Homo sapiens: one gene and its partner. The protein of the gene in region 2 purifies or fractionates together with the protein of the main gene of each other region. This does not show direct contact. Each region holds a gene or a part of one and is shown on either strand. Other genes may lie near its edges. The genes, in order: NCALD and HSPBAP1.

Region 1 (3,818 bases), on a different chromosome or scaffold from region 2:
GAGCCACTTCGTGTTCTTCAGGCCACTCTGTGTTCTTAGGTTTGCTGCAAGAGCCCATCCTATCTTGGGGAAGAAGCCGTGGACGTAAGTGTTTGTTCATACACCACGGGAAGACAGCTGTGCCTCCATCTGAGGTCAGGGAAGAGCAGGGTATGTTCAAGGCAGAGGGTAACCCATGGGTTTCTGCCTCTCAGTTAGGGTGCTCTCCTGCTACCCTGATGTGCTGGAGGAGGGAGGCTCAGCAGCCTGGGCTCCCACTCCGACCCCGGTGACCTTTCCTTTCTGCTTACTCTGGAGCACGTACAGAATTCTCTTCCAGGAAGGCCTGTCACTTGTGGAGAGGAGGGGAGGGGGTGGGGTAGGAGTTGGGGGACTGCAAGGCTTTTCCCATTCCTGGTGCTTCCAGAAGGACCCTTCCTCTTTGTCTACCCCGCCCCTGGGAGTGAAGTGACATGCTCGATTGGTAAATTTGGGAGGAATTGCTGGGCATCTCCGCCCAGCTTTGCCCTCCCTTTTTCTCTTGAAAGGAGCTGCCCCAGAGAGGATTTATTTCCATCTGCTCCTCCAAGGGCAGCACCCGGCCTGCCTGGCTCTGCACGCCTGTGGGTTTTTCAGCACGTCCTTGGACTCTCACGCTAAGCCATAGCCTCCAGTATCTATCTTTTGACCTCTGTCCTCTTTTATTTCTCAACTTACTCCAAACCTGACAGGAGGGGGCCTCCCCCAACAGAAACACCAACAAACATATCTTCTCCTCAGCCACAACTCCCTCCCCGCCAGAACCTAGTTCTTGTTTAATGAAACCCACTTTATCTCCATGAAGGAAAAAGATAGGGATGCATTTATTAATTTATTTTTAATTTGTAGAGCTGATCCCCTCCAAGCTCTGTGTGCTGGCCATTTTTTATGAGCCCAGCCCTGCCCACATAGTAGTTACAATGGTAATGACTTCCTCCAGCTTGGCAAGGCATGAGGGAAGGGAGACAGGCGTGATCTCTGAACACTTTGCAGTCTCTCAGGGGTCGGCTCTGGGAGGCACCAGCTGGAGGTAGCAGGGGCAGACCTGGAGCTCGGCATGACGTCTGGCTTTCTTCACTTAACTGTCTGCATGATTCAGAGTTGGCTCCTAGGAGAACTTGCCTGAGGGCCCAGATTTTTCTTTTCAAATCGGAGGCCAGAAGTTAGATTCCAAGAGCAACAGGCAAGCTAAATCTAAGGGTAGGAGACTCTAGGTGAGGACTGCTCTGCTCTCGGCAGGGAGGGGTGCAGGTGTCCTCAATCCTGGGGTCCAGCAGCCAAGCACTGAGCTGAAGCACCCAGTCTCCTGGTTGAGCTAAGATTCCTCTGACAGCTGTGAACTTACAGCCCCTCTTCCTCCTTCCTTCTACAGCTCCCACCCCCCTCTCCCAACCCTAACCTTTGAAAATTTAATTTAATTTTAAACATGAGGTTTTCCTTTGGAAAGGCACAGGTCTTTAGCAGTAAGTTGTGCTCTGAGAATGCTAACTCAGTCAGGGCTCTGCAATCCCATAGCAGCAGAGTCCCAGTGGAAAGACCCTAATTCATTGCCTGTGATCAACACACAGTTAGGGCTTTAGGGCTTTATCCTGTGACATCTGATCTTCTCCCATCCTTCAGCCCTATCCTGAAGAGCTGTCTGGACCTAGAGCACAGCACAAACCCATTGTGCTCCCTTGAGTACCAGTAAAACCTGCAGTTTAACATCAGCAAGTTAATTAACTATTAAAATAATCCCGTGCTTGTTTAGTCACAACTATTCATTGTGAATCAAAGCAAATAAGGGGACATAGGATGTTTCCAAATGGAATGGCACCTTTGTGGAGGAAACAAGCAAGCAGACAGGCCCATACCACACAAACCCAGATTCTTAGGCAGCTGTACCTGGGCGGGGGATAAAAGGAGACAGAGGCTCTCTGTACTGCGAAGCCGCCTTCTGCTGTTCTATAGATCAGCGCCAGGTGGGGGACCCAAGTGCCTGTGCACATGGTTGACAAGAATTGCCGAGGCCTCTGAACAGATCGGGTGAGCTGATAATAACAGCAAGAGCTACAGAGCCGGGCCCTGAGCTGAGCTCTTTAAACTCAAGTATAACATTTAAATAGGGTTGCCAGATCTGGCAAATTAAATACATGATGCCCCGTTAACTTTGAATTTCAGATAAACAGCAAGTGACTTTTTTAGTTGGCTAAACAATTGTTAGGCTAATCCTAACAACTGTTGCTGTTTATCTGAAATTCCAGGATAATTGGGCCTCCTGTATTCTATCTGGCAATTTAAGATCTAAAATCCTTCTGTTCTTAAGTTGGAAATGCAACCTTCTTTTTCACTTCGTTGGGTTTGAATTGTGGGTAGCACCATCAGGGTGGGAACCTGCTGGGCACCTTACTCCCTCACCACTACCCCGGGCACCCCAGTGACTATGGGAGCCCACTGTCTCTGGGAAACACAACATCTCAGTGCATGCACAGGAGACCCCAACAAAACCCCTTTGGCAGGCTGGAGTGAAAGCTGTCGGCATCTGGGTAGGATCACAGAATAACAACCCTCTCCCCATTTTGATGAACTGGACTGCAGGGACCCAGCCTGCTATAGCCTAGGCCTGTCCCAAGGATGGGTCTGTGCTAACAATGGTTTCTTGGTTCCTTTCATTCTTGCCCCACAAGATCCATTCTGTTTTCTTGGAGGTAGAAGTTGACCTACAAGGAGGATAGAAAAAACTAGAAATAAGGCATTTCCCCCAATTCTGGGCTCAGCTCTCCTGTGGCCACCTGGTCCTCTCCCCTCCTACCCACCCAGGAGGCTTGGAGGATGAGCCGCTCACATTGAAGGGCCTCGAGTGGCACTTCCCAGTCTGGACTCTCCAGTCCTTCCAGCAGCCCCCATCTGAGCAAAGCAGTGTAGCCCCCGCCTCCTACCGTCTCTATTGGTGTCCATCTGGCGGAAGATCTTTTCTGTTCTTTTCTCTGGGGTTGACTCATCTTCAGGCATTTTCATTACAGAGGAAACCATCTTATAGATTGCCTGGGGACAGAAGCGACATGGTGGTAAGACAGAAAAACAGTATGGCACACAATAGACCTATCATTAAACCTCCCAAATGCGGGCTGAAGGGAATGTCCCCATCCGCATTGGACCTAGTCCTACCCCTATTGATTGGTATAAGATGTGGAGGCACAGGTAGAAGAAGCCGGGCCCACAAAGCTTGTTCTCCTCCAGTGAGGACCTTCAGGAGGGACAACCAGCAGGAAGACCCAGTAGACCCCTGTGTCTCCAATGTTTTTTGATTGTTTTTTGAGACAGGGTCTCATTCTGTCACCCAGGCTGGAGTGTAGTGGCACGCTTACGGCTCACTGCAGGCTCCATTTCATAGGCTCAAGCAATCCTCCCACCTCAGTCTCCTGAGCAGCAGCTGGGACTAGAGGTACTCCCCACCACACAGGGCGTTTTTTTTTTTTTTTTTTTTTTTTTTTTTTTTTCTGTACAGACAAGGTCTCATTATGTTGCCCAAGCTGGTCTCGAACTCCTGGGCTCAAGCTTCTCCTCCCTCAGCCTCCCAAAGTGCTGGGATTACAGACATGCGCCACCTCTCCTAGCCGTCTCCATTGTTTATGTGCATACAAATCCCCTGGGAATCTTGTTAAAATGCAGAATCTGATTGGGTAGTGTGGGGGAAAGGGGTGGGGCTGAGAGTCTGTATTTTTAATAAGCTCCGGTGTGATGCTGATGCTGCTGTTCTGAAGACGCTGCTTTGAAAAGCAAGGTTCCCACTTTGAGGAGCAAGGCTGCAGATGACATTC
Region 2 (3,818 bases):
TGTCACTGTCAGTATAAACTCATGGATTGAACTGGTACTTTTTCGTTGTTTTTTTTTTTTTTTTAAGTAAGTGCAAATCATGCTTTTAAAAGATATATAAGGTCTGGCTGTACAACTGGGTAATTAATTTTTTTTAACCAATGCTTCAGTATTTTTTTGTTGCAGTGCACTATAACGTATGCATTCTGTCTTCTGTTAATGGATGTTTAGGTTGGAAATTGGAATTTTAGTGGTGTGCCACTCTCTTTCTTTTAAGGACACAGAATGCGCCTGATGCTGGCATGCAGGGTCCTTTCCCTTGACCAGTGTTGTTAGGAAAATTGTATTGGGCCTGGCCAGATTTGCCGATATGTGTCCCTTGTTGCCGCTCCTCTTTCACACCATCTGGGCTGGAAATACCTGCTTCTTGGTTCAGGGTCATTACTAATTGCAGAATTCTGTCTTGGCTTCTACATATTCTCAAAGCGGAGTCTTTCTTTCAGTGCTAGGTTTTTATCATTTCATTTCTGCCAGAAGCCTTTCCCTCTGATGTGTTAAGCTTAATCCTGGTTGCCTGCTCTATTTGACAATTAGAATAGCTGCTTGTTATGCTCAAGTCTGTCTCTTCAACTGGGGCCTTAATTGCAGCTGCCTCTCTTTAACCAGAGGCCCTGACTGCATCTCTGCTCTCCTTGACCTGAAGCCTGGATTGCATCTTTCTGCTCTGTTTGACAGCCGTATCCTCTCCCTAGTCTAGTTTTTCCTATCCTTTGCTAATAGGAATGGCTTTGGAATCAGTGGAACAGAAGGAATATTGTTACAGAAAGCTATGTTGTGTGGGCTTAGTGAAGAGTTGTAGCCCTTGAGGCTTAAGTGAGAGGTATGGCAGGAGATCAGTAGCGTCACAGAAATTTCGCCTATAGCATGCTGAACTGGAGTTGCAGCAGATGTCAAGGTAGAATCCATGGAGAACTTCCACTCCCAATGCCAAAGTCATATCTACAATAGCCCTGACAGGTGCTTCACCTCCCAAGGAAGTTCGCTTGTTGTTAAAGAGTAGAGCTGTCATCTTTTTAAAATATTTGAAAATACCTCCAAGTTTTTCCATAATCTTTTCTTCTTCCATGCTCAAAACCTCTTACTTTCTTTAATGGGGTGTTTTTATGGGTGATTTTTTCCTTTTTCCAGACTTTTTACCATTCTGGCCATAGACTTTGGAATCAGGCAACTTTAAGATACAGGTTACCTTTGTTAGCTGTCTAACATAGATAATTACTTAATCTCTTCAAGCCTCCATTTTCTTGTAAAATGAGGATTATAATTGAACCCACCTCAGTAGAGTAATTGGACAACACATTGTAAAAGCATCTAATATAGTGCGTGGCATATGGGAAGTGTTTAAAAAGTAGAAATTGCTATGAGGAGGAGGGAGAGCTATTATGTCAAGAATAGTTCTCTTAATATATAGTGCCTAAAACTGAATATCAGTAGGCCTTATTTGGTAGAGTATAAGATTTCTACCCCACATGATCTCGATCCTAAATATCTCCAGTGCTGCTTGTAATATTGGGTTAGTTTTTTAAGTAATCTCATCTCACTTTAGTTTCATATTCAACTTTAAAATATCTGTGATTTTTTTTCACATGATCTGCTGTCAGGCAGGTTGAATCCTATCCTGTACCTATAAAGCTGATTTTAATTCTAAATCCAGTATTTCACAGTCATCCCTGTTAATTTTCATCATATTGGTTTGGTTGAGCATTCCAGCTTGACAAGATAATTTTAAATTTGGGTCTTATCTGTCATTTTAGTGAAACTTCAAGCTGGCCTGTGCCCTTTTGATATGTCCCCGTTAATTAGACTTTGAGTGTATCCTGGCTTTCTGGCACAGGAAGATATCCCAGGATACCCTTTCTCCTTTAGTGCCCCACACTTGGAAGTCAATCATTTCTCCAGGTAGCCACAGTTCTTTTTGTAGGAAATGGCATTTAGAAACTGAGATCTCAGCTCTAAATCTGTTCATTGCTCCTGGGTGTCAGTGTTTCTAGGCTCTTTCAGTGATGTAGCTAGAATGTGAGATAGATAGATAGATTAGATAGATAGATAGATAGATAGATAGATAGATAGATATTGATGTATTTATATTTCTAATTCATGTGTTTAAAAAATATATCTAGACAGGTAATATGCTGACGTCATAACAAGGCTTAAGGGAGGCATGTCTCACACATGAGCATGACACCCAATCATCAGACTTATGAACTATAAAAGTATCTAATTCAAGTTTAACATGATAGAATTTTTTATTTGTTTCTGTATTTTTATCTCTTCTCTTAACACTGAAAATCTGGGTCCTTAAAAACAGTAACATAAGGCCGGGCACGGTGGCTTACGCCTGTAATCCCAGCACTTTGGGAGGCCGAGGTGGGTGGATCATGAGGTCAAAAGATCGAGACCATCCTGGCCAACATGGTGAAACCCTATCTCTACTAAAAATGCAAAAATTAGCTGGGCATAGTGGCACGCACCTGTAATCCCGGCTATTCGGGAGGCTGAGGCAGGAGAATCGCTTGAACCAGGGAGACAGAAGTTGCAGTGAGCCGAGATCAAGTCACTGCACTCTGGCCTGGCAACAGAGCGAGTCTCTGTCTCAAAAAAAAAAAAAAAGAAAGAAAACCAGTAACATATTTACTTGTTTGCTGTATCCAGCAATATATTTTTTAAGATATCAAATTTGGCCGGGTGCAGTGGCTCACACCTATAATCCCGGCACTTTGGGAGGCCGAGGCGGGCAGATCACATGGTCAGGAGATTGAGACCATCCTGGCCAACATGGTGAAACCCCTTCTCTACTAAAAAAATACAAAAAATTAGCCGGGCATGGTGGCGCATGCCTGTAGTTCCAGCTACTCAGGAGGCTGAGGCAGGGGAGTCACTTGAACCCAGGAGGTGGAGGTTGCAGTGAGCTGAGATCGCGCCATTGCACTCTAGCCTGGTGACAGAACAAGACTCCATCTCAAAAAAAGAAAAAGATGTCAAATTTATGTTTCCAAAATTCAAATAGTAATATTACTACTAACCATAAAGCTTGCAAGTAAAAATTAAGATTTCTTTGCAATTCTTTTTATTATTAGACTGTATCTATCACTAAGAGGGATAGATACAAAGTCCTTTATTCAGGAGTCATTGTGAAGGAATTCTTTTCATTTATGGTTATTTTACTAATTGGATATTTAGTTAAGTTCATTTGTTTCAGTTTGTTTTCAATTTTAGGATTTACCTTTTTAAAATTTTGATCTAATTTAATATTTTAAATATGTAGAACATTTAACTTGTCAAAACTATGTTAAAAGTTATACTCAGGGAAGTCTGCCTTTCATCCCTGTTCCATCCACTCCATTTTTCCCAACCTTTATAGAGATCCATTTTTATTCATTTCTGGTTTATCATTTCCAGTGTTTCTTGTAAACATATATATCTATATCTATATATAAAAGTAAGTAAATGAATAGATATATTTATATATGTAAATAAGTATATAAACAGTCTTATATGTACAAAGTGCATAAGCATATAAATATGTCTTTACTTATTTATATACTTATTCAAATATATTTTAAATTTTCTATCCTTTATTCCATAGAAAGTAATAAACTATAGTGTTCCATACCTTGCTTTTTTCAACAATAATATCTTGAATTTCACTACATAATAGTACAGAGAAATATTCATATTTTTCTTCAACCACTGTCTAGTACTTCACTGTATGGGTGCTCTACTGTTCATTAGTTCCTTTAAGGATAGATGTTTGGGTTGTTTCCAGTCTTTTGTAATTACAA

Evidence for each region.
Region 1: the proteins of HSPBAP1 (region 2) and NCALD purify together in Homo sapiens (affinity purification with mass spectrometry; 2 studies listed by BioGRID and IntAct, with this or other methods). This does not show direct contact.

The regions. Positions count from the first base shown.
Region 1 is NC_000008.11:101,689,855-101,693,672, forward strand, and holds part of NCALD (neurocalcin-delta), read right to left. Parts: intron 3,043-3,818; coding exon 2,937-3,042; intron 1-2,936. UniProt on the Homo sapiens protein: May be involved in the calcium-dependent regulation of rhodopsin phosphorylation. Binds three calcium ions.
Region 2 is NC_000003.12:122,748,807-122,752,624, reverse strand, and holds part of HSPBAP1 (HSPB1-associated protein 1), read left to right. Parts: coding exon 1-34; intron 35-2,149; exon of another isoform or gene 2,150-2,253; intron 2,254-3,818. UniProt on the Homo sapiens protein: May play a role in cellular stress response.